7 linked regions of the Homo sapiens genome follow. The protein of the gene in region 7 interacts with the protein of the main gene of each other region in a pairwise test. Each region holds a gene or a part of one and is shown on either strand. Other genes may lie near its edges.

Region 1 (3,500 bases), on a different chromosome or scaffold from region 7:
TTTCTAGAAGTCTTTTATGTTAAAGGTATGAGCCCTGCTCTCCTAACACTGACTAAGTTTTGACAAACCACAAGTTTGTGCATGAGTCATTCAAAGTCAAGGGACCCAACTGCCTGCGAAATGACCACCTGCCGATGATGCAGGTGTCTCGAGCTGCCCAAGTGCTCACGGGATCCCCTCCGGGCAGACTGTGTGTGACGTCTGTGCCAGGCAACGTACCCTCAGCGGGGTCTCTGAAGCTCTCCTCTTTCAGCTCCAAGGCAGGCTGCCCCTGCTGATGGGTGGGCACTGGCTCACTGCCTGGACAGCTTGTGGGAAGCGAGGTGCTGGCAGAGTTCAAGGCTCTCTCCTGGAGGAAAGGGCAGAGTCACCCTGTGCAGTGCAGTCAAGGTACTTGGGGTGTGGCTTTGCCTCCCCACAACCTTGTTGAAGTAGACTTGGGGGAGAGGGAGCGGGACATCCCACCCCGTCACCCAAGGCTGCTGGGGGCTTCCACTGCCTGCTACTCTTCTACACGACCAGGCCAGGAGCACAGGTACCCACACAAGCACCCCTTACCTTGCTCTCTGCTGTTGGGGTCTCGGCTGCCAACTGCACCACAGGCGTGTCCTCCGCTGAGGCTGAATGCAGCTGCCTGGGGAGACAGAGTCAGCAGAGGCCCATGCCCCCCACCCCATAACCCCGGCGTCCCCTGCTCCAGCACTGAGCTGCCATCGCCTTTCCCTGCACTGCTGTGCCGGCCACGTGAACATTCAGCTAGAGCGTGCCAGGCATGGGGCTGTCCCAAGCGACCTGGCCACAAAACTGCCTCACCAACCTCACCCAGCAGGAAAACACGCGCCTTGCCTGCCAGCTCTGGGAGAAGCAGGCTGGGAGCTCTAAAGTCAGCACGATGCAGCCAAAGGGAATCACAAGGATGAGTACATCCCTTTTACTGTGAAACTGACAAAAGGCTTCAAATGTGGAGGCTGGGGCAGGTGTGGGCAGCAAGCCACCCAGGGGCCAAGGCAAGACACCAAGGGCACAAGCTGTTCCAGTATCATAAATATACAGAATAAGAATAGTTATACTAGAAATAGATTATAGATATGATTATATATGAATATCGTTAATCATTAGTTTGTAGCTTTACTCTTTATTCTAATATTATAATAATCTTTGTTCTACAATAATAACCTAGGAAACGCCGGGTGCGGTGGCTCACGCATGTAATCCCAGCACTTTGGGAGGCCGAGGCGGTCGGATCACGAGGTCATATCTAGACCATCCTGGCTAACACGGTGAAACCCCGTCTCTACTAAAAAATACAAAAAAATTAGCCGGGCATGGTGGCGGGTGCCTGCAGTCCCAGCTACTCGGGAGGCTGAGGCAGGAGAATGGTGTGAACCCGGGAGGCAGAACTCGCAGTGAGGCGAGATCACGCCACTGCGCTCCAGCCTGGGTGACAGAGCGAGACTCTGTCTCAAAAAACAAACAAACAAACAAATAACCCTAGGAAAAACCAGGCCATATAGAGATAGGAGGTGAAGGCACACGGTGAGAAAGTGACCGGAAGAGGTGTGTGAGCCCTCTGTCACGCCCGGACAGGGCCACTGGAGGGCTCCCTGGTCTAGCGGTAACACCAGCACTTGGGAAGGCACCCGTTACCTAGCTTGGTCTAGCGGTAGCACCAGTGCCTGGGAAGGCACCCGTTAATTAGACTGGGAAAGGGAGTCTCCCTTTCCCTGGGGGAGTTAGAGAAGACTCTGCTCCACCATCTCTTGTGGAATCAGTCAGGCCCGCCCGCAGCCATCCAGAGGCCTGTGTCCCTGTGATGCTGTGCTTCAGCAGTCACGCTCCTGGTCCACTTTCATGATCCGCTCTGTACACCTGGCTCTGTCTTCTAGATAGCAGTAGCAGAATTAGTCAAAGTGCTAAAGTCTTTGAAATACATAGAAAAAATAATGGCGTCAGCTGTCCTCTCTCTCCGCCTTGGCTGCCAAACAGGGAAGGGCCCAGTGGACACGTGACTTGCGTGACCTGACCTATCATTGGAGATGGCTCACACTCCTTAACCTGTCCCCTTGCCTTGTATCCAATAAGTAACAGCGCAGCCAGACATTCGGGGCCATTACCGATCTCCGTGCCTTGGTGGTAGTGGTCCCCCGGGCCCAGCTGTCTTTTCTTCTGTCTTTTTCTTGTGTCTTTATTTGTACAATCTCTTGTCTATGCACACGAGGAGAAAAAACCCACAGACCCAGTAGGGCTGGACCCTACAGGCAGGACAATCTCCCACTGAGCAACTCTAGGAGATGTAGCCTAAGACCATTCAGCCAGGAGGCAGCAGACCCACGGCCAAGACCCCAGCAAGCAGCGGACGCCACCCAGGCAGTAACAGGCTTTGCCTGGCTTTTGGAGTTACACACCCAAGTCAAGTTCACCTGAGGAGGAACATGACTGGGGGACAGGGTCCTGCCCAGGGTTGGTTGCATTTGGCTTCTGGCCTGAGCCCGCCCTTATTGGATCCCTCCTTAGGCCAGGAGCACTAAAGAGATGCATGGCAGCCAAGGCAAGGCCAAGCACCCTCAGCTGGGAGCCACCTGAGCCCTGTTTTTATCCAGAGGCCCCTCCTCAGGCAGAACCTACCCGGCCTCAAAGGAGTATCTGATGACACTTCTGGCCTCGGGTCCTGGACCACATACACTGCAGGGCAGCTGCCCCACGCCACGCTCCCCATCCCATCCTCACACTTACTGGCTCAGACAGGGACCTGGCTCCTCCGTGGCAGGCCCAGCATGCAACTGTTCAGCCGCTGGCTGGCCCAGCCTGGTCTCAGGGCTTTCTGGGGGCTGGGCCTCACTGCAACCAGACTTGGTGTCACCTCCGAACGGGATGAAGTTTGGGTCATCCATTTTGTCCCAGTCGAGGTGGTAAGAGCCCCGAGAAGCTGGCATGGGGGGGTCCTCTCCTGCTCCGCTCCTACCGTCGTCCTCCTCCACCTCCTGCGGGGCCTTTTGCTGCCTCACTGCTGCTTTCCTCAAGGGAGGCTTGAGGCCGGACCTCTCTCCCAGTCTCCTTGGTGGGGGTGCCCTTTTGCTGGTGGCGCCATCAGATACATCAAATTCTAGTTTTACAGGTCCGCTCCTCGAGGAGCTGGCCATTTGGCCTGCAGCCACTTCTTCCTGAGGACTCAGGGTCATGGCCCTGCCAGCCACCAGGTGGTTGGTTGGGGCTGTGCTCTCAGGAGCAGAGGTGTGTGCACAGGTAAGGGTCTGAGTGCCATCTGCTGGCACGGGGGTGCCCACACCCGCAGGGCAGCCCAGGGCTTCGCCAGGCAGACCCTGCAGGGGTGCTCCTCCGCAGGCTTCCTTAGGGATTGCACCAGGAGGCGAAGTGGCCACTGCTGCGGGAGCACAGACCCCACCGTGCCGGCATTCCTCCTCGGCTCCGTGCGGAGTCTCCGCTTTGCATTCTTCCTCGGCTCCGTGCGGAGTCTCCGCTTTGTGCTGGGACTCTGTCCT
Region 2 (3,125 bases), on a different chromosome or scaffold from region 7:
TTCTTCCTAGTCTCTGTCTTATCTCCTCTGGGGGCTCCAGAGCTCCTGGTCACTTATTTTTCTCCTATTTTCTTCCTTTTCAGTTCCACCCAGTTCCCACACCACTCCCCCAGCTGAGCATCTTCCTCCATGAGAACTGTCCAGGGCTGCTGGGAGAGAACATTGTGGAACAGTGAGGGAGAGGTGTTTTCTGCATCATCTGAGGGTCGTTACTCCCGGGTCAGTGCCATTGCGGTACTTCCCCGACCCTATAGGATTTTCCTAAGGATTTTGATACAATTTTATAGGGTTGTTCAGAGACATATTGGGACCTCTTCCTACAATTAATAGGGCTTTTATCCACTATGGTTTATAGGGTTTTTCTGCTACAGACTTAAAGGGCTTTTTTTTTTCCTACATATTTATAGGGTTTCTAACCCAACAGTTTTTCTCTACTGCCTTATAAGTGCTTCCCACCAACAATTTTATAGGGTTTCTCATCACTGATGTAAAAGCACTATTTTTTCCCAGGGTTCTTTCTCCTCCACTCCACTACCATCTGATAGGGTTATCCTCCCTTCCCCATGTAATTTTTTTGGGGGAAAAAATCCAGTGTTCCTCTCTGGAGAGAGCGAGGCCCCTGGTCTCCAGACCCATTTCACAGGGAGACACCTGGGTGGCAGCTCCTATGGAGCAGGAGGGCTGCGACTTCTGTGAAGCCGGCTCCACACTCGGGGCACAGATAGGGCTTTTCTTCCACTAGGGTTTTGGGGTTTTGCCCTTCCCCATGGCTGCTGCTCTCTGTGGGGGTAGGGGTCTCGCCCTCACCTTCCTGATCTGTGGACAGGGTGACTGCCTCTGGAGGGGGGTCCTCGGGATTGGGGGGTTTTTCCTGGGTGTGGGTTTCTTGGTGCCGGGTGAGGGCCACGCGGTCGAGGAAGGAGGCCCTGCAATCTGAGCAGCGGTAGGGTCTGGCCCCCAGGGGGCTCCTGAGATGCTCCAGGAGGACGGAAGAGCTCTTCCCCAGCTCTGGACTCTTCTGGGAGCTCTTCCCGCCTGCATGGACTTTCTGGTGCAGCAGCAGCTCAGAGCTGAGGCCAAAGCTTTGTTTGCATTCAGGGCATTTAAAGGGCTTCCCACTTAAGAAGGGGCTGGGCCCTGCGCCTTCCCCTAGGCCAATTCTATAATCAGGAAAGAGAAAGGGCTTTTCGTTGCCGTGGGTGAGCTGATGCTGGAGGAGCACAGAGCGATCCAGGAAGCTCTCTCCGCAGTGGGAGCAGATGTAGGTCTTGGAGGACAGCAGCCCCCGCCTCTGGCTGAAGCCCTCCTGACCCTCCGGCGGCTTAAGGGGCTGTCCGGGGGCCTCCGCTCTGCCCTCCGCAGCCCCGGGGTAGGAATTCCCTCTGAAAGGGAGCCTTGGGGATCGTAACTGAGGAGGTTTGGGGGCTGCGTGTGCGATGAGGCCGTCTGCATTTTTGTAGGGGTTTTCTCCGATGTGGATCCTCTGATGTTGCATGAAGATGCCCTCGTCGTTGAAGCCCTTTCCGCACACGAGACACTTGTGCGGCTTGGCTCCCGGCGGCGGGGTCAGCAGGGAGGGGTCCCCGAGCCCCAGCAGGCTGTCGCCCTGGGCCCTACGCGCTGGGGTCTTCCCCCTCTCATGGATCACCCGGTGCTGCTCCAGCTCGTGGGCTTCCAGGAAGGCCTTCCCGCAGTCGGAGCACACGAACAGGTTCTCGTCCATGTGCGTGCGGACGTGGGTAATAAGGTTGGAGCTCTGGCTGAAGCTCTTGCCGCACTCGGGGCACTTGTAGGGCTTCTCGCCGGTGTGCGTGCGGCGGTGCTGGATAAGGTGGGAGCTGCGGATGAAGCTCTTGCCGCAGTCGGAACACTTGTAGGGCTTCTCACCGGTGTGGATGCGCTGGTGGCGGATAAGGGTGGAGCTCATGATGAAGCTCTTGCCGCAGTCGGCGCAGATGTAGGGCCGCTCGCCGCGGTGGATGCGCTGGTGGTTGATGAGGTTGGAGCTGACGCTGAAGCTCTTGCCGCACTCTGGGCACTTGTAGGGCCGCTCGCCCGTGTGCGTGCGCTGGTGCCGCAGCAACGTGGCGCTCAGGGTGAAGGTCTTGCCGCACACTGGGCACTTGAACGGGTCCTCGCGCAGGTGAGTCCGCTGGTGCTTGATGAGGGTGGAGCTGTGGCCGAAGCTCTTGCCGCACTCTAGGCACTCGTAGGGCTTCTCGCCTGTGTGCGTGCGCTGGTGCTGGGTCAGCTCCGAGCTCTGGATGAAGCTCTTCCCGCACTCGGTGCAGCGGTATGGCTTCTCGCCCGCGTGGATCTTCTGGTGCTTGAGGAGGTTGTGGTTCTGGCCGAAGCGCTTCCCGCACTCGGGGCACTTGTAGGGTTTCTCGCCTGTGTGGGTGGCCTGGTGCTGGATGAGGTCCGAGCTGCGGTAGAAAGCCCGGCGGCACTCGCCGCACTTGTAGGGCTTCTCGCCGGTGTGGGATCGCTGGTGCTTGATGAGGTTGGTGCTCTGGGTGAAGGCTTTCTCGCACTCCGTGCACTTGTAGGGCTTCTCTCCCGTGTGCGTGCGCTGGTGCTGCACCAGGTTGGAGCTCCAGCTGAAGCACTTGCCGCAGTCGGGGCACTTGTAGGGCTTCTCGCCGGTGTGCGTGCGCTGGTGCTGCACCAGGTGCGAGCTCTGCGTGAAGCTCTTGCCGCACTCGGAGCAGGTGTTGGGCCGCTCTCCCGTGTGGATGCGCTGGTGCCGCAGCAGCTTGGACCACTGGCTGAAGCTCTTGCCGCACTCGTTGCAGATGTAGGGCTTCTCCGCCCCCGCCGGGCGGCCCTGCACCAGCTCCCGCAGGCTGGGCTCGTTGGCGGGGACGACTGGGGGGCTGTTCCATGTGGTGAGAGCGCCCCACTGCCAGCTGGCCTCGCAGGCCTTGGTCCAGTCAGATGGGGTAGGGACTACCTCCGGGGCTGGGGGGTCCAGGGGGATCTGGTGGTCCAAGGGATTGGAGTGACCCAGTGGGGTTGGGGGGTTCTGGGGGACAGAGGGGTCCTGGGAGGATCTCTCCAGGGACATCTCTGTTGAGTCCTTGGATTCTGGACTCTGAGCCGGGTCTCCCATGATGATCTCCTCC
Region 3 (3,500 bases), on a different chromosome or scaffold from region 7:
TGTACACTCTGTTTTTCTTATTATATTTTAGTCTAGCATTTTGTTGACTTCCTTTTACATGCCAGTCAATTCTACTGAGTTCATTTTACATCCAAAAATGAGTTGTCACTAGCCATTTGGAAAACACTGGTCTCTAGGACCACGACTGGGCTTGTATCCACGTCCCTATTCACATACACAGCACACACACATACACATGACACACACACACCACACACACTTCACATACACATCCCACATATATCACACATACCATGTATATCACACACACACACCCCATGTACACAAACACATACAACCCTTATTCTATCCTGTCAGAGCCTCAGAAGAAACCACACAGGCCCCAGTCACCAGGATGAGGCACATGGTCCCTGAGCCAGGGTTTGTCTCACAAGAAGGAGGAGTTTTAAGTGCCTTACTTGGTTCCTCCTGCTGCGATCGTCAGTTCAGGGGACCACCACAGACCCGGGTTTGCTTTCCAGCAGCCCCTGAGAGCTGCTGCACTGTGAGTTTTGTGTGGTGCGTGCTGGGATGGGAATTAGGATGTGAACTCCAAGGTCCCAAAATGAAATCCTGAGCAGACATGGGGGCACTGGAAATCAATAAAAAGCGCTACATCTAGTTGTGGCTTCACATTTTTAGACAGAGTAACACATAACATCCAAATGGTCCAGGCTTTCTGAAGTGTCCGATTTTTACACGTTTTGCTCTCTTGTCCCCATGTGTACTTGTCAAACCAAATGTCAACTTACTTTTTGGTTTGGGAAATGTGGTTAGAGAGCCATACAAAGGTGCAGTATTTTAACCCAAGCGTCCCTGTGGAATGACCTGCTGTAGGGTAATGAGAAAGAGAGAGAACCGGAAGGAACAAAGAAGATGAGCCGGCAAGTAGCCAAGAAGGCACAGGCCACAGGACAGTTTGGGGCTTTTCTGTTTTGTTTTCAAATTAAGCTTCACCCAAAAGGGGTGGGGGTAGAAATGTGAGCTTTCCACCAACACGTTTCTAACTAGAAGCAAACACTGATACAACCACTCTTGCCGGGTTGTAATCAAATTCCGAAGGAGAACTGTTACCATGAGAAGGAAAACAGAAGCACAGATTTGAACAAGTGGAGGATAAAAATCCCTATGGTGTCCGTTTCTTCTTATTCTTACGAAGCTTGACCTGGGCAAAATGAATGCATGATGTAGACACTGGGGCAGCCTAAGCCTAAGACTCGGTGGGGAGGGCATGACTCGAAGGAGTCCCAAGGGGCACCTCTGAGGGGCCAGGAATGAGCGTGGCACCTGTGTCCCCCAGCTCAGGACTCTCCCTGTGTCCTGGAAAACTCCTCAGTCCAGGCCAGAGCAGAGCGCTTGGCCACCCACTCAGAAAACCCCGTTTCTGCCAGGAACATAGGATATGTTCAGCGTGTGACAGCTCCTCAAGCTGCATGCGTGTGCCTGCGCGTAACACCTCCATGAAACATGTGGGAAGCCCCAATGCACACGCGGCAGACTCGAGCGTACCTGTGCCTGCAGCTCCACTCTCTGCGCCTGCAGGTGGGAGAGCACCTCCCGGCCCTCCTCCAGCTGACTCCGCAGGGCGGCCACCTCCCGCTCCGTCAGGAGCTTCTCCTGCACAGAGAAGGCCAGAGTCAGACTCATGGGACATGCAGAGAGGAAAAGGGCAGAGAAGGTGCGGGGCCCTGGTATGGACGGAATATCCGTGTCCCCCTGAATTCTGTGTTGAAGCCCTAACTAACTCCCAAGATGAAGGTTTTAGGAGACCTTTGGAAGGTGTTAGGGTTAGATGAGGTCATGAGGATGGGGGGCCCCATCATGTGATTAGGGTCTTTGTAAGAACAAGAAGAGACACCAGAGCCCCCACCCCCACCCCCTGTCTGTCTGTCACGTGAGACACAGCAAGAAGGCAGCCGTCTTCAAGCCAGAAAGAGAGCCCTCACCAGACACCAATTCTGCTGGCATCTTGATCTTGGACTTCCAGCACCCAGGACAGTGAGAAGTAAATGTCTGCCTGTCGGCCCTCCCATCTGTAGTGTCCTGTTATAGTAGCCTGAGAAGACTAAGCCAGGCCCACAGCACAGCCATCAATGCCTTTTGCTTTGTCTTCAAAGTCTGAACCTCCTTGGGAGTGTGACATGCCGGGACCAAGTACCAGGAGACCAGAGCTTAGACCTGGCTGTGCCATGAACCTACTAAGAGACTCTAGAAAAGGATTTGACTCTCAAAGCCTCTGTTTTCCCTTCTGTGAAAGGGAAAACCTGGAATGCACACTCTCGAAGAAAATGAAGGCTGGTTGGAGCCGCGAGCCATACGCTGTGCTCGGATGTCAGCGCAGCACAAAGCAGGAGCCATCAGCCCCAGTGGGTGAAAGGGAAGTGACGCTCCAGGGAATGGCTAGAAGGAAATCCTCTGACCTCTCCACACTCTGCCAAGCAGGTCCCTCTCTCCTGACCTGCCTTTCCACGTCTATTCAAAAATATTCAAATTGTTTCACAAAGGCCTGACTGCTCAAGAGCCATGCATTCTGACACAGAGCACATTGACTCGAAGCCATGCAAAATCAAACACCAAGTCTACAATGAGGGTTTCTGTGTCCAGAGGCTGCATGGAAGACAGCCTCTGCTTCAAACACCTTACAAAGTGGCTGCAGCAATGACATAGACATACAGGAAAGTGACCGTCTAACTTGATTGTAGAATTGCTAAGCTAAGACTCATAAAGATGTGACACTTTCTCAATCGGTGCTTCTCTATCCTGAGCATGCACACGAGTCCCTGCGGATCTGGCTAAGATGCAGATTCTGCCTCAGTGGGTCTGAGGCTGGACTGGACACTCTGCACGTCTCACAAGCCCAGACGATGCTGATCGATGACATCAAAGTCAGTTTAGTGTCTGTATACTTATGACTTAGAAGGGTCTTATTACATGGGAATAGATGATACAATTCAAAAGGTATGCTCGGATGTAAAACACCTTTGAGTTAGAGTTGGGTTTGAAAAATAAAAGTAACATCTCTGGAAAGGAATCTCTGGGAAAGAAAATTAAGGCTTCAGGAAAAGTTTTTTTAGGCCTTTGTAGCAACATCAGTTACATCCACTAAGGAGAACAGGATCCTGAAATGGTAACTGGTGGGCAATTCAGACAAGACTATCCTCATGAATGCCAAAAAAAGTAACTTTCCTGTCGCTTAGATGATACTTTGCAGGGTTCAAAAGTGTCTTCTAAAGCAAATTTGGGGATTTCTTTAGCTTTGTATAAAATAATTAAGACGAAAAAGTTCAGGCAGCCGGTGACCCCAGCCCATGGGTTCTGCAGCAGTTTGTCTGCATGCTGGTCCTGGGCAGGCCCCACCTCCTGGGAAGCCCATTCATTGACTCGGAGCATGGCCTGAGCACACATCTAGGCAATTTCAAGTGTCACCAGGGTTGAGAGCCACCATCCTAGGTCATCCTTGCAAAAAGACCCAGAACCTTATCTCTTGACCAATCCACCAA
Region 4 (3,500 bases), on a different chromosome or scaffold from region 7:
GAACCCTCTTTTCCCTTTCCCACCTCCAAAAGTAGATGGTGAAAAAAAAAACAAGATAATTTCCCAGCATTCCTTGTAGTAAAGGATGGCCATGTGCATCAATTTTAGCAAATAAGATGGAAGGAGGGAATCTACTGGGGGGCTCCTGGAAAACATTTTGTTTTCTCATATAAGAAGAGCTGTTTCCCCTCCCTCTCCTTCCTGCTTGTCTTGAACATGGTTACATGTAGTTGTGATGACTGGAACTGAGGCAACTATTTTGCAACTATGAGGTCACAAGCCTAAGAAAGAAAAGCCAATATTCTGAAGATGGCAGAATGCAGAGATAAAAAGAGCCTGGGTTCTTTATGACATTCATCAGTCACTGCCTAAATCTGAAACTGCTACACCTCTAAAGTTCTTATGAGAAAATTAATTTGGCTTAAACCACTGTTAGTCAGGTATTCTGTGACTTATAGTCAAATGTACCCTAGGTGACAGAGCTACGAAGTTCAGTACAGAATGCATGGTGACCAAAATTAGGTGTTTGAATCCTACATAGGCAAAGAGACTCTAATTCCTGAAATTCAAATGAACATTTAGGAATAGCAATGGAATATGTTATTTCCAAAGTATGGATGGCAGCTTCAATAAGCGGCCCAATCTGAAATAATGTAATTTCAAGGATATTTTAATAGTTACTGGGAACAAAGTGACAGAATTCTTTATATCAAAACTATCCTGTGATCTAGCATAGTAGACAGCAATTGTTTTGTCTGCCCAGCAATCCCATACCACCAAAACTGGATTATTTGCCTTTTTGTTTGTTTGTTGGCTTTTTGAAATGAAGTTGCACTCTTGTTGCCCAGGCTGGAGTGCAATGGTGCGATCTCGGCTCACCACAACCTCTGCCTCCCAGGTTCAAGTGATTCTCCTGTCTCAGCCTCCCGAGTAGCTGGGATTACAGGCATGCGCCACCACGCCCGGCTAGTTTTGTATTTTTAGTAGAGACAGGTTTCTCCATGTTAGTCAGGCTGGTCTCAAACTCCTGACCTCAGGTGATCCGCCTGCCTCAGCCTCCCAAAGTGCTGGGATTACAGGCATGAGCCACCGCACCTGGCCTATTTGTCTTTTTATTATTGAGTTTTGGGAGTTATTTACATATTCTGAATATAGTCCCTTATCAGATAATATGCTTTATAAATATTTCCTCCCACACTGTCAGCTGCTTTTTCACTTTTCTGATAGTGTCTTTTGAAGCACAGTTTGGCTATTTATTGCAACATTATTGGATAACAAAAGACTGGAAATAATGTAACTGTACACCAAAAGGGGATGGTTGAATAAACTATTGTAAGTCTACAAAATGGAGTACTATGTAACTATAAAAAGAAATGAGGAAGAGCCCTATATACCACTACCAAGTGATCTCCAAGATATACTGTTAAAATGAAAAAAGGAAGGTTCAAAAGACTGTGTAGATTATGCTACCAAGTATTGAATAAAAGGGGAACATGTGAATAAATTTAACAATTTGCTGTTTTAAAAATTAAAAAAAAAAGAAAGAAGAGAAGGAGGAAGAGAAAGAGGATAACCTCAAACTAAATAAAGTTTTTTCTTTAAGTTATTATGGAGAGAGGGAGAGAATAAGATTGAAGAGACAGAGATAAAAGCTAGAGCTCTCTGAAAGTAACTTACTTTGCAAATTTGACTTTGAGACCATACAAATGCCTTTTTTTAAGTTCAGAAACAAAAGCACAATGAAACAAATGAACCTAACTAGATACTGAGTTGGTGACTTAACCATACCGACAGCAATGATTTAAATGAAACTAAAACCCAGTAATTTGACTATACATTCCTGGTGGGATATACTCTCACAACAGAAATAGCTATAAAGAAATCTTAAACTATTTTCAAAACTCAAATTGTTAATAATGTTATTATTAATTAAAAATTATTATATGGTTGTATATTTTTATTTATGTTAGGATAAGTAATTCAGCTAATGTACTTATGAAGCAAGATTACATGTAAATATATAAAATCAAAGAAGTAAAAACCCTATAATCCTTAATTTGCATTGAAAACAATAGTTTTTGAACTCATGTTATATTTTATCCTTAAATATATGTACATATTTTTTAGCCTTGCTTTAAGAGAATGAAAATTCAAGCCATAGACTGGAACAAAATATTTACAGACCATACATTCAATAATAGACTTGCACCCAACTTGTATCCAGACTATATTAAAAATGACTTTCAAAACTCATCAGGCGGATCGCCTGAGGTCAGGAATTCAAGTAAGGAAACTCCCCAATTAAATATGAGTAGAAGACACGAACAGACATTTCACCAAAGGGGATATACGGATGGCAAATAAGCACATAAAAAGATGTTCAACATCATAGCCATTAGGGAAATAAAAATTAAAATCAAGAGGAGATACCAGGCCGGGTGTGGTGGCTCAGGCCTGTAATCTCAGCACTTTGGGAGGCCGAGGTGGGTGGATCACCTGAGGTCAGGAGTTCAAGACCAGCCTGGCCAACATGGTGAAACCCCGTCTCTACCCAAAATACAAAAATTAGCCGGGCGTGGTGGCACACACCTGTAATCTCAGCTACTCGGGAGGCTGAGGCAGAAGAATAGCTTGAACTGGGAGGCAGAGGGTTGCAGTGAGCCAAGATCGCGCCACTACACTCCCCTGGGCGACAGAGTGAGACTCAGTCTCAAAAAAAAAAAAGAGAGAGAGAGAAAAGAGGAGATACCACTATACACCTATTAAAATGGCTAAAATCCAAAACACTGGCAATACCAATTGCTTACAAGGATTTGGAATAACAGAAATTCTCAATCATTGCTGGTGGGAATGCAAAATGGTAATTTCTTATCAAGATAAACACACACCTACCATATGGCCAGTTCAAAATTTACATAAAAGTAAGCATCCTGCCATTCATAGGAGAGCAATGACCATTTTGCTATAATTTTCAACTTCTTATACATGTAAGCAAAGCTTTCCTTGTTTAACAAGTATTGAAAAGGCCAGAAATCTTCTCATTCCAGTTGAAAATGAAATTGATGTGTGCTTATTTCAAGCTTGACCCGGAATTATTTATGTGGCAAAATATAAACACAGATTTCAGAGTGGAGAGGTAAATTTTATTATTTATTTTTAGCTTTTAAAAAATAAGACTGTTATGTACATACAGGTCTATAAAGAAATCAAGATTATAATTTTGTAACTGCCTATATTTAAGCCCAATCATGTCAGTCAGTAAAAGAACCTAATTTTTAAGTCTTGTATAAAATTATATCTTAGGTTATATTTTTACTCATAATGCTTTGTCATATAGTTTTAGTAGCTTTATTATGTAACATTGTCAATACATTTTGATGTTGAAAACAGCATTAATTACGAGTTTACAACCTTTATTTAAATTAAATCATCTTAGCCTACTTTTTGAAAAAGTAAATTCCATCTTAGATATAAACAGAAATAACTTGAATTATTTAACA
Region 5 (3,500 bases), on a different chromosome or scaffold from region 7:
AAGACATTTCTTTAGGTGAAATGGCAATGGTAGCTGCTCTGGATTGGATGTTTGTTCCTTCCAAATCTCACGTTGAAATTTGATCCCCAATGTTGGAGATAGGGCCTAATGGGAGGTTTGGATAGTAGGGGTAAATCCCATGAATAGATTAATGCCCTCCCTCCAAGGTGAGCGAATTTTCCCTCTATTAGTTCCTCTGAAAGCTGGTTGTTAAAAACAGCCTGACACCTCTCCCGGTGGCTTGCTTCTTCTCTTACCATGTGATCTGTGCACACGCAGGCTCCCTTTTACCTTCCACCTCAGGCAGTGGAAGCTGCCTGAGACCCTCACGAGATGCAGATGCCCAATCTTGATGTCCCAGCCATCAGGACTATGAGCCAAATAAACCTTTTTCCTTTATAAATGACCCAGCCTCAGGTATTCCTTCACAGCAACACAAAATGGACTGAGACAGTAGCTAACTTAACAAAAGTTGCTCCACTACAAGATATGCTAAAATCTAACAAGTATATTTATGCTCAAATTTATTAAATAATCTAGTAGAAATAAAAAAGAAATGGATGGCATAAGGTGGTAATAGGGTGAAATAGGCAGGAAATATCAGTAAACATGGTAGTGACTTTCAGTTCAGCCTCAATTATTTCCTTCATTAATTAGATATGTTTATTATTTTTATAATGCTTTAAAATATGATTGGAAATTTAACTATACAAAACAATACCACATTTACAATAAATGTCTACTACTAAGATATGGTCAAAGACTATAATTGCTCTCTTGCATGTATCTTTAACTTCCTTAACACTTCCGTCACATTTGTTTCACAAAACCACAGCCATGGTTAAAAGCCAGCTCTCCACCTACTCCTTACCTTCAGCCATGCAGTTGAACAGGCTGGAGAACCACACTCATAGTTCATGGCCATGAACACTACATGGGCCATTAATTCAGTATAGCAATCACACACCACATTTCCCTGATCTATTCCTTTTCCAGATCACCATTTCACATATTCTTCTCTCCCTTCAGACCAACCAATACCTTATACCTCATCCTCACTTTCAGCTGTTTTGATCTTGCTTCCTACTTAAGAATCAGCATCTGTGTTCACATATTCTCCCTTCCCATCTGTTGCTATAGACGAGTACCTGAGAGGCACACCTGCCTAATCTCTCCACCTGGGTTCTAATTTCCATTTCCTTTTGCCTAATTAATGAAATTGCTCCAACAAGTCTTCCTCTTTTTCCTACATCATCAATTTTTTACCCAATACCTCTCCTCTTAAAAAAAATTGATACTACTTTTCTTGACAGCTACCACCTCATCTCTTTGCAGGAAAACTCCTCAAAAAAACTCCTCAAAAAAAAAGTTGTCTATATTCACTAACTACAATTCCCGTCCCACAATTTTCTTTTAAGTCTACTCCACACAGGGTTTTGCCTCCACCTCCCCATCAACATTCACCTTACAAAGTTCACCAATGATATCCACATTGCAAAATTTAACAATCCATTCTTAGTCCTCTTCTTACTTGCCTTATTTGACACCACTGGTCATTCTCTCATTTTAGAATATTTGATTCACTTGGCCTCCAGGACATAATTATCTCTCAGTTTTTCCTCTTACCTCTCTGGTGGCTCCTCTTCAACCTCCTTTGCTGCCTTCTTCTCCTTACCTTTTATCAAGATGTAGCTTCATCTTTGGTCCTCTTTACTTCTCTATCTATACCTTCTCCTTGGTAATCTCAACCAGTCTCCCGGCTTTAAATACCATTTATGTGCTGATAACTCTAAGCTGTCACACTAATTTTTTTCATCAGTCTAATTGGAAAACTAACAAACAGGTTAAGTTTATAAATGTCCAAAACGTTAACTCCTGATTGTCCATTCATTCTGACTCTAGCCACAGTTTTCCTCATTTCAGTTTACGTAAATTCTATCCTTCTGATAATCAGGCTAAGAACTTTGGAGTAATACTTGGTATCTTTTTCTCATACTCTACATTCAATCTAGCAGAAAATCTTGTTTATTTGACCTTCAACCGTTAATATATATTTTAAAATATATTTGTATACTTCTTTCATTATTACCACCCAGGTCCAAGCCATCATCTCACTGGGTTATTCCAACAGACTCCTGATTAGGCTCCCTGTTGCTGTTTTTGCCCTCTATAGTCATTCTTTTTTTTTTCCCCCGAGATGGAGTCTCACTCTGTCACCCAGGCTAGAGCACAGTGGCATGATCTCAGTTCACTGCAACCTCCACCTCCCTGGTTCAAGCAATTCTCCCACCTTAGCCTCTGGAGTAGCTGGGATTACAGGTGGGCGCCACCACACCCAGCTAATTTTTGTATTTTTAGTAGAAACAGGGTTTTACCATATTGGCCAGGCTGGTCTCGAACTCCTGGCCTCAAATGATCTGCCCGCCTTGGCCTCCCAAAGTGCTGGGATTACAGGTGTGAGCCACCACTCCCAGCCTCTATAGTCATTCTTAATGCAACAGCCAGAATGATCCTTTTAAATGGCAAGTGGAAGATATCAGTCCTTTGTTCAAAACCCTAAAATGGCTCTCTATTTTTTCAGAGAAAAATCTAAAAGTACTACTACGGCCTATAAGACCATATAATCTTTCCCCTAATTACCTCTGTAACCTCATCACCCTCTTCCTCCCTCTCTCATTCCTATCCAACCACACTGTCCTCTTTGCTGTTAGTTGACCATTCCAGACAGAAATATGCTATTCAAGGAATAGCGAGATGGTTAGTGTGCCTGGAACACAATGATTAAGATAGAGATTGATCAAAGATACAGTTAGAGATAGATATGGGCCAGACTAGATAGAGCATTGGAGGCCACAATAAAGACTTTAGATTTTATTCTAGAAGAGACAGAAATTCACTGAAGGGTTTTCAGCAGGTGAATGTTAATCTGATTTGTCTTTAAAAGATCACTGGGCATAGCTGATTTTACTTGGGTAAGGTAAAATTTTCATTAATTGAGTGTAAGAAAAGAGGAAAAAAGAATTTGGAGGCTATTGTAGCAGTTCTGGCAAAATATAATAGTGATTCAGACCACAATGATCAGATTCAGGGTTTATTTTGAAAGAGCTGAAGGGACTTGCTGATGAAATGGTAGGAAAAAGAAAGAAATCAATTATAAAACTGTCTAATATTGTTTCATTGCAAACACAACCAGATTAAAAACTACCTTAAGTGAGACACTTCTCACGATGCTAAAAATAAACTTACACTTCTTTAATTCAACCTCAGTATAAATCCAATAAATGCTTTATTTATATGGATTTAAAAATAAGGAGTAGAGAAACTTTCATAAACACTAGCTATATATAGGAAAATAATAGGATGTTAAGCTTGAAAGCACAGTGTTACGTCTGAATCAAAAGGAAATATCTCAAATTATATCTTCTTTTTAATATCTACTAGCCATAAACTGGTATTCTTACATGAATTCAATAATTCAAACATTTAGGAGCCTCAGTAAT
Region 6 (3,500 bases), on a different chromosome or scaffold from region 7:
GCAGTTAAAATAAGAACATGTGCCAAGAACAACAAGTCAGAGGGGGCCTGAAGGTGCCTTCCACAGTTTCCCTCAAAGCAAACTGCAGTCCTTTCTATCAAAAGCAAATGCTACTGCTTCTCTAACTCAGAGACATACAGAAGGTGGTCTTCCGGAGATTTCCCGTGTGTTTTGCTAAGGTGAAGTTTAACAGCGTGCTTGCTGGCAAAGGTCCGATTGCAAAGTTTGCACTGATAGGAAGTCCCCAGGTCTTCCTCGGGGGAGGACGTCACCATTTTTTCTGACGGTGACTTGGTTTGTGCTATCTGACTGTTAATCTGTTCGGTGGACAGTTTGGATAAGTCCCGTAGCCGGAAGCCTAAGTGTGACTCTAGGTGACTGATGTACGTGGAAGGAGTCCTGATTTGGGACGCACAATCGTTACAAAAGAAGACGGGGTGGCCAGTGTCCAAGTTTTTGAGGAACTTTGTTCCACCTGTCCTTCGAAGCTGGTATTTCACGTTGGCCAGCCAGTGGCTGATGGTGGTCATGGACAGCCCGGTGAACCTGGAGATATGCATCCGCTCCTGGGGGCTCAGGTCTGACATGATGTACTTCCCTTCTGAGGTCTGCCGGAGGCTGGCGGCAAACTGGGCCTGGAGGATCAGGAGGTGCTGGGGGTTCCAGTTTGACTGGCGGCCCTTCCTCTTCTGGGCGGGCGTCGACTCCTCAGCCTCCTCCAGAGTGGCCCCGTCAATGTCAGACTTCTCGGAGATGCTGGAAGGAGTGGAGGATTTTGACGTGTGGCTCTCTGTCAAGTTCTTCAGCATATCGGATATATCTGACAAGGCATTCTCGCGTAGCGGCGAGTTTGACATGAATGATACGACGGCAGATGTCTTTGCCGTTGTCACCGTGGATGAGGAGGTTGCCGGGGCTGTGGACGTGGGTGACAGAAGCACTGAACCCAAGGAGCAGCCTTTGTCACTCTTCCCTTTTGTCAAGTCTATGGGCTGGTCGTTGTTGACGTGGTAGAAATAGCGGTCGAGGTGGTCTGCCTTCTTGGACTGCAGGGGCGGCGGGGTGGCCACAGCAGCCTTCTCCGCCAGGCTGTTGCTCATCTTGAAAAGCATGCTCATGGGGTCCAGGGCAGGCAGGGAGGGCTTGGCGGCCTTGCCCAGGTGAATGTTCATGACTGACTGCAGGGCGCTCAAAGGGTTAACAAAAGGCTGTTCAGGCGGGTGGTCGGTGATGATGGCCGTGCTGCCACTCAAACTGCTGGCTAGGGGCTTCACCAGCTCCTTGCCATTCTCCACCGGCTCAGCGAGGGGGCTCCCATCCTTGCACCCATCCCGCGGGGGGCTGGGGCTGTTCTCCTGGCTGCGGAAGCCCCCATCGCTGGATGCCTCCATCTTGATGGGTTCCCCGACTTCGCTGCTACATGGGGAGGGAGTGGCCCGCTTGGGCGGGGAAAGCTTCCCATCCGGCTCCTTCATCTTCTCCTCCACTTTGGCAACTTTCTCAGTGACCTTTTTCACCAGCTCCTCCATGGCATGAAAGTTTGTCTTGGGCATGGGGGACGTCTGGCTGCTGGGTGGAGAGACCAGGGTCTGGTTTTTCGTCGGGGAGACAATCTCACTGTTGCCAAACATGGGTTTCAGGGGCGTGCTCTTCCCCGACGAGCCCAGGGACAACTTCATCATGTTGGGAAGTTGGTAGGCGGCATGGATGCTGGGATAGCCCCCCCAGCTAGGAGTGCCGTTCTGGGCCTTGTTGATTGCGGATGTCACTGTGTTTTCCAAGGATTTGAGGATATCAAGCCCCCCCTTGGGACTCTCTTCTAAGTCATTTTCAGTCAAGTAATGGTATTTGGAAGAGATGTCACACTTCTCCTCTTCTTCGCCAGGCTTGTCTTTTTGCTTAGGTTTCTCGTCAGTGACCGCTTTCTCCTTGTCGACTTCCTTCTTGACCTCCACATTCAGTTTTGGGGAGATGCTGGCAGGTGTATTGGAGGGGGACGTGAAGGTGGTGGCTGCCAGGGGCACGGACTGGACCTTCTCATCCAGCAGGGTTGTGATGGTAGGTGTGACAGGCGTCTCCACAATGGGCTTCCCCTTTTTCATAGCAGAGTTGGTGACCTTGATGAAGTGGCCAGTGACCATCATGTGGGCAGTGAGCTCCTGCAGGGTGTCATGCGAGCTCCCACACTCCATGCACTTCAGGATCTGCGACTTCCGGGCCTCAAAGTGCCATGCATAGCTGGCCCCATTCTGGTGGCCGTACCGATTATTTGGCGTGATGTAAGGGTTGGAGTTCTTCTGAAGTGCATCGTTGGTGTCTGAGATGGTGGCTTTGGGGGTTCCACCTGTGGAATCTGGGGAGCTGGGGAGCTCCAGCTCCAGGGAAGCTTTCTTCCGAGTGGCAGGGATGATTTTGGCGGCGACAGGAGTGACGGGTTCCTTCAGAGGCACTTTTTGGTAGTGTTTTGTTTTGATCATATGGACACTCAAATCCTGCAGGGACTCAAAGGAGTGGCCACAGTACATGCACTTCAGCACCTTCTGGGCGTCTTCCTTCCCTTCCATTTCCAGCAAGGAGCGTTTGCGAGGCTTGGACCAGCGCTTGGGGTTGTTGTTATCGGTCTCATGGTTGTCGTCGCGGTAATGCCCCGTCTCGTTCATGTGCACCGTCAACTCCACCAGGGTGTCGTAGGCAGCGCTGCAGTCCTTACAGCGGAACTTGCTGGCCCCCGTGAAGATGGAGCCATAGAGCTTGCTGCTCTGCCGGTACAGCTGCACGGTGCTGAAGAGGCTGGGCTCCGGGAGCATGCGGCTCTGTGACACCTGCTGCAGCGTCTTAGCCATGGCGCTCTGGTGCCAGTCGAAGCTCCCGCTGCCACAGCTGCTGCTGCTGCTACTGCTGCTGCTGCTGCTGCCGTTGTTCTTCTCCGAGGAGGGCTGGTGCAGGTTGAGGTTGAGGTTGGACCAGTAGGAGTTGGAGAGGAAGTTGTTGTACACGGCCTTCATCTGCTCCAGGCTATCCGACACAGTCGTGTCTTCCAGTGGGACCGTGACCTCCTTGGTCTCCTCTTCGTTCTTGATGGAGCCGCTTTCAAAGTCAGCCATTCGGTCACTGGTCTCACTGATGTGTGACTCGCTGTCCATTTCATGGCAGGAAAACTCGGCGGCCGGGGAGTTCTGGTAGCTGGGGCAGGCCCTGGCGAGCTCCTTCTCCGGGCACATGTACTTGGCCGAGGGCTCTCCATCTGCCGTATGCTCCTCTGGGTCTAAACCTTCGTCCACCAGGGCAGCAGCCTTTAACTCTTCGGAAACATAGGCTGCCATGATAACAGGTGGGAAAGAGAGACAGGTAGGATGGAATGAAGAGAGACAGGGAGAAGGAGAGAAAGAAAAAAAAAAGCATTAGTACTTGTTGATCTTACCTAGAATATGTTCTGGGCTCTCAGGAAAACACAGCAACCCAGATGGGTACATGTATTTGTAAAATTAAACAGTTAAAAT
Region 7 (2,932 bases):
TCCTGGCCTCCACAGGAGCCCACTTCAGGCAGGCCTCTGCACAAGGTCCCCTGCTCAGAGGCCTCTCCCCAGAGTCAGTTTCTATCATATCATCGTACTGTACTTTCTCTTCAAGCACTTATTTGAAACGATCTCGTTCATCTGTTTAGGTCCCATCTGCTCGCTCGCTCTCCCACTAGGATGTAGGCTCTCAGGGTCCAAGTGGCCCCCAGGCTAATACAGTGCCTAGCTCTGACATTCCTGTTGAACGAGTGAATGTTTCATCTTCCCCACTCCTAGCATTTATCATCTTCCAGAAGAAAAGAGTTTTAAAACAAAAGTTGAGAATAAAGAAAAGCAGGAGCTTCCCAAACATTTCCAAAGCTGCCTAGAAAAAGGATTTGAAAAGGTGCCACCCATAGAGAGAGCTATGGGTGGGACCACTTCTCACAATCTCCAAGAGAGATGGCTGCAGGGAGAATTCCCACAGATTCCCAGAAATAACATTTCCAAACAATGGCTCCTTCTGTAGTCGTCTTTATTTAGAGCAGAATTCAGACTCAGCTGGTATCCCCCAGGGCAACCCCAGGATGGGGAAGGGCTGGTCTGTCCCCACCCACTTCTCCAGGATCCTCCCAGCCCCCAGGCTGGCTTTCCCTCCAACTGTCAGCTGCTTAGCTGCTCATCTGGGGATTGGAGCTGGAGCATCTGTCAAGGTTGTCTCCTTGACAAACAGCTTCCTCTTTGGAAATGGCTTCACTCAGGTCCTGCAGGTCATCGAGCAGGACAGAGAGGGACCCTGGGAAGGAAGACAGCAGATGAGCACCAGACAAGGGAAGGTGCTCGTGGTTACAGAGGAAACAGGGCTGGCACAGGAAATGAGGAATGGGAGAGAGGAGGCTCTTTGGTCCAAGCTGGGCATCGCTAAAAGAGGCTAAGGGCCTCGAAGGACCGCAGAGAACAACACTCATCATGCGAGAGTCTGAAGAGGAGATTCCTGAAGTGCGCGCATTTGTCCCTTGTCCCTTTGTGCTTGGCCCAAGACCTTTTATGGACTCCCTGGTGGGCACTGCTGCTGCTACAGGTGCAGATGCTGAACACTCTGGAGGCCTGGGGCTGGACACCACAGATTTCTTCTTATCCAGTAGGGAAGGAAGAACTGTCAACAGTCGCTGCTGCTTGTAACGGGAGAGGAGACCTTCCTGCTGCAAGGTGGCCTGGGAAGGAGAGGGTTAAACCTAGCCCGGATAGAGCCTCCCTCACCATCCTCTTTCCACACCTCTAGCCCAGGAACCAGCCCAGGATGGGCCCTAGTGTCTGCCTGTCTGCCCTCCTGTCTCCTACCAGCATGAGGTTCTTATCCCTCTCTAGCTCCTGCAAGCGCCGGGCCAGTCGCTGCCCCTCCTCCTTCCGGGCCTCCTCCTGCAGACGCCTGAGTTCCTGGCTCCGCTCCTTTTCCTGGGCGGCTCTGCGCTGAATCTGGCGTAAGGAGACCACTACAGAGAGGCCAAGGCACAGAGGAGGCAGGTGTGAGTCAGGCCAGAGGCAGCCAGGCACCATGAAGACAGGAACAAACGCTGGGTCACCAACTCTGTGGCTTGGGGAGGCTGTTCTGCTCTGTGGATCTGTCTCTTCTGTACAGTTGGAGGGGTGGGCTGATGCTCTAGGAGCCTGGGAATCTGAACCTAAGTATCTTCCTCATCCCTGAACCATCCTGGAGTTCCTCAGGGGAAATCTGAACATGAACTGGGTTAGATTTTGTGCAATTAGTGTTCACTGTCTTAAAGTGTGATGATTGCAGCTATATAGGAGAATTTACTGGCTTTGGGAGATGCGGCTGAACAACTTATGTTTACAACTTACTTAGGCGTGGTGGCTCACGCCTATAATCCCAGCACTTTGGGATGCCAAGGCGGGCGGATCACGAGGTTAGGAGCTCGAGACCATCCTGGCCAACATGGTGTAATCCCGTCTCTACTGCAAATACAAAAACTAGCTGGGCATGGTGGTGGGCGCCTGTAATCCCAGCTACTTGGGAGGCTGAGCCAGGAGAATGGCTTGAACCCGGGAGGCAGAGGTCACAGTGAGCCAAGATCATGCCACTGCACTCCAGCTGGTGACAGAGGAAGACTCTGTCTCAAACAACAACAACAACAAAACATTAAATGATTACAACTTAAAGTGATTCAAAAGATGTACAAATATGTGTGTATATAGATAAGAGACCAAATGTGGCAAATGTTAACTGCTATATTTAGTTAGAGAAGATACATTCATTACACAATTCTTTTTTTGACACATGGTCTTTCTCTATCACCCAGGCTTGAGTGCAGTGGCACAATCTTGGCTCACTGCAGCCTCGACCTCCCGGGTTCATGTAGTCTTCCCACATCAGCCTCACAAGTAAGCTTGGGGTACAGGTGCCCACCACCAGGCCTAGCTAATTTTTGTATTTTTAGTCGAGACAGGGTTTCGCCATGTTGTCCAGGCTGGCCTCAAACTCCTGACCTCAGGTGATACACCCACCTCGGCCTCCCAAAGTGCTTGGATTACAGGCATAAGCCACCGCGACCGGCCATATGCTGTTTCTTAATCTGGTGCTGGCTACATGGGTGTGTTCACGATGTGATAATTCATCTGTGCTACTCCTGGATACCTTCATTACTTCCTGTAATGAAGCTTTGAACACACTTTGAGGGGAAAATAATAACCTTATGTCTTAACACTTCCTTCTTCCTGGAAGGCCCTATCCACCCTGGCAAGGCTCACCGGCCTTGGCATGCTCCCTCCGAGCCTCGTTCAGCCTCCTCTCTGTGTCTGAGAGTTGCTCCCGCAGCCGAGTTTCCACTTCAGCCACCTTTTCTTGCAGGGCTGGGGTGAAAGTGCAGACGGGGCATATCAGCAGGAGCTTTGATTCGCAGTTCCCACCCCACCCTCCAAGGGAAGCACCCAT

What was found.
Region 1: the proteins of CCHCR1 (region 7) and TACC3 interact in binary tests that used the Homo sapiens proteins (3 or more experiments, as listed by UniProt).
Region 2: the proteins of CCHCR1 (region 7) and ZNF629 interact in binary tests that used the Homo sapiens proteins (3 or more experiments, as listed by UniProt).
Region 3: the proteins of CCHCR1 (region 7) and BFSP1 interact in binary tests that used the Homo sapiens proteins (3 or more experiments, as listed by UniProt).
Region 4: the proteins of CCHCR1 (region 7) and EFHC2 interact in binary tests that used the Homo sapiens proteins (3 or more experiments, as listed by UniProt).
Region 5: the proteins of CCHCR1 (region 7) and NME7 interact in binary tests that used the Homo sapiens proteins (3 or more experiments, as listed by UniProt).
Region 6: the proteins of CCHCR1 (region 7) and TSHZ3 interact in binary tests that used the Homo sapiens proteins (3 or more experiments, as listed by UniProt).

What each region holds. Positions count from the first base shown.
Region 1 is NC_000004.12:1,728,021-1,731,520, reverse strand, and holds part of TACC3 (transforming acidic coiled-coil-containing protein 3), read right to left. Parts: coding exon 2,734-3,500; intron 635-2,733; coding exon 559-634; intron 350-558; coding exon 220-349; intron 1-219. UniProt on the Homo sapiens protein: Plays a role in the microtubule-dependent coupling of the nucleus and the centrosome. Involved in the processes that regulate centrosome-mediated interkinetic nuclear migration (INM) of neural progenitors.
Region 2 is NC_000016.10:30,781,081-30,784,205, forward strand, and holds part of ZNF629 (zinc finger protein 629), read right to left. Parts: coding exon 638-3,125; 3' UTR 1-637. UniProt on the Homo sapiens protein: May be involved in transcriptional regulation.
Region 3 is NC_000020.11:17,507,380-17,510,879, forward strand, and holds part of BFSP1 (filensin), read right to left. Parts: intron 1,618-3,500; coding exon 1,510-1,617; intron 1-1,509. UniProt on the Homo sapiens protein: Required for the correct formation of lens intermediate filaments as part of a complex composed of BFSP1, BFSP2 and CRYAA. Involved in altering the calcium regulation of MIP water permeability.
Region 4 is NC_000023.11:44,333,673-44,337,172, forward strand, and holds part of EFHC2 (EF-hand domain-containing family member C2), read right to left. Parts: intron 1-3,500. UniProt on the Homo sapiens protein: Microtubule inner protein (MIP) part of the dynein-decorated doublet microtubules (DMTs) in cilia axoneme, which is required for motile cilia beating.
Region 5 is NC_000001.11:169,294,798-169,298,297, forward strand, and holds part of NME7 (nucleoside diphosphate kinase homolog 7), read right to left. Parts: intron 1-3,500. UniProt on the Homo sapiens protein: Possesses an intrinsic kinase activity. Displays 3'-5' exonuclease activity with a preference for single-stranded DNA. Does not seem to have nucleoside diphosphate kinase activity.
Region 6 is NC_000019.10:31,276,437-31,279,936, forward strand, and holds part of TSHZ3 (teashirt homolog 3), read right to left. Parts: intron 3,317-3,500; coding exon 111-3,316; 3' UTR 1-110. UniProt on the Homo sapiens protein: Transcriptional regulator involved in developmental processes. Functions in association with APBB1, SET and HDAC factors as a transcriptional repressor, that inhibits the expression of CASP4.
Region 7 is NC_000006.12:31,141,939-31,144,870, forward strand, and holds the end of CCHCR1 (coiled-coil alpha-helical rod protein 1), read right to left. Parts: intron 2,851-2,932; coding exon 2,749-2,850; intron 1,476-2,748; coding exon 1,324-1,475; intron 1,197-1,323; coding exon 1,025-1,196; intron 779-1,024; coding exon 654-778; 3' UTR 501-653; downstream 1-500. UniProt on the Homo sapiens protein: May be a regulator of keratinocyte proliferation or differentiation.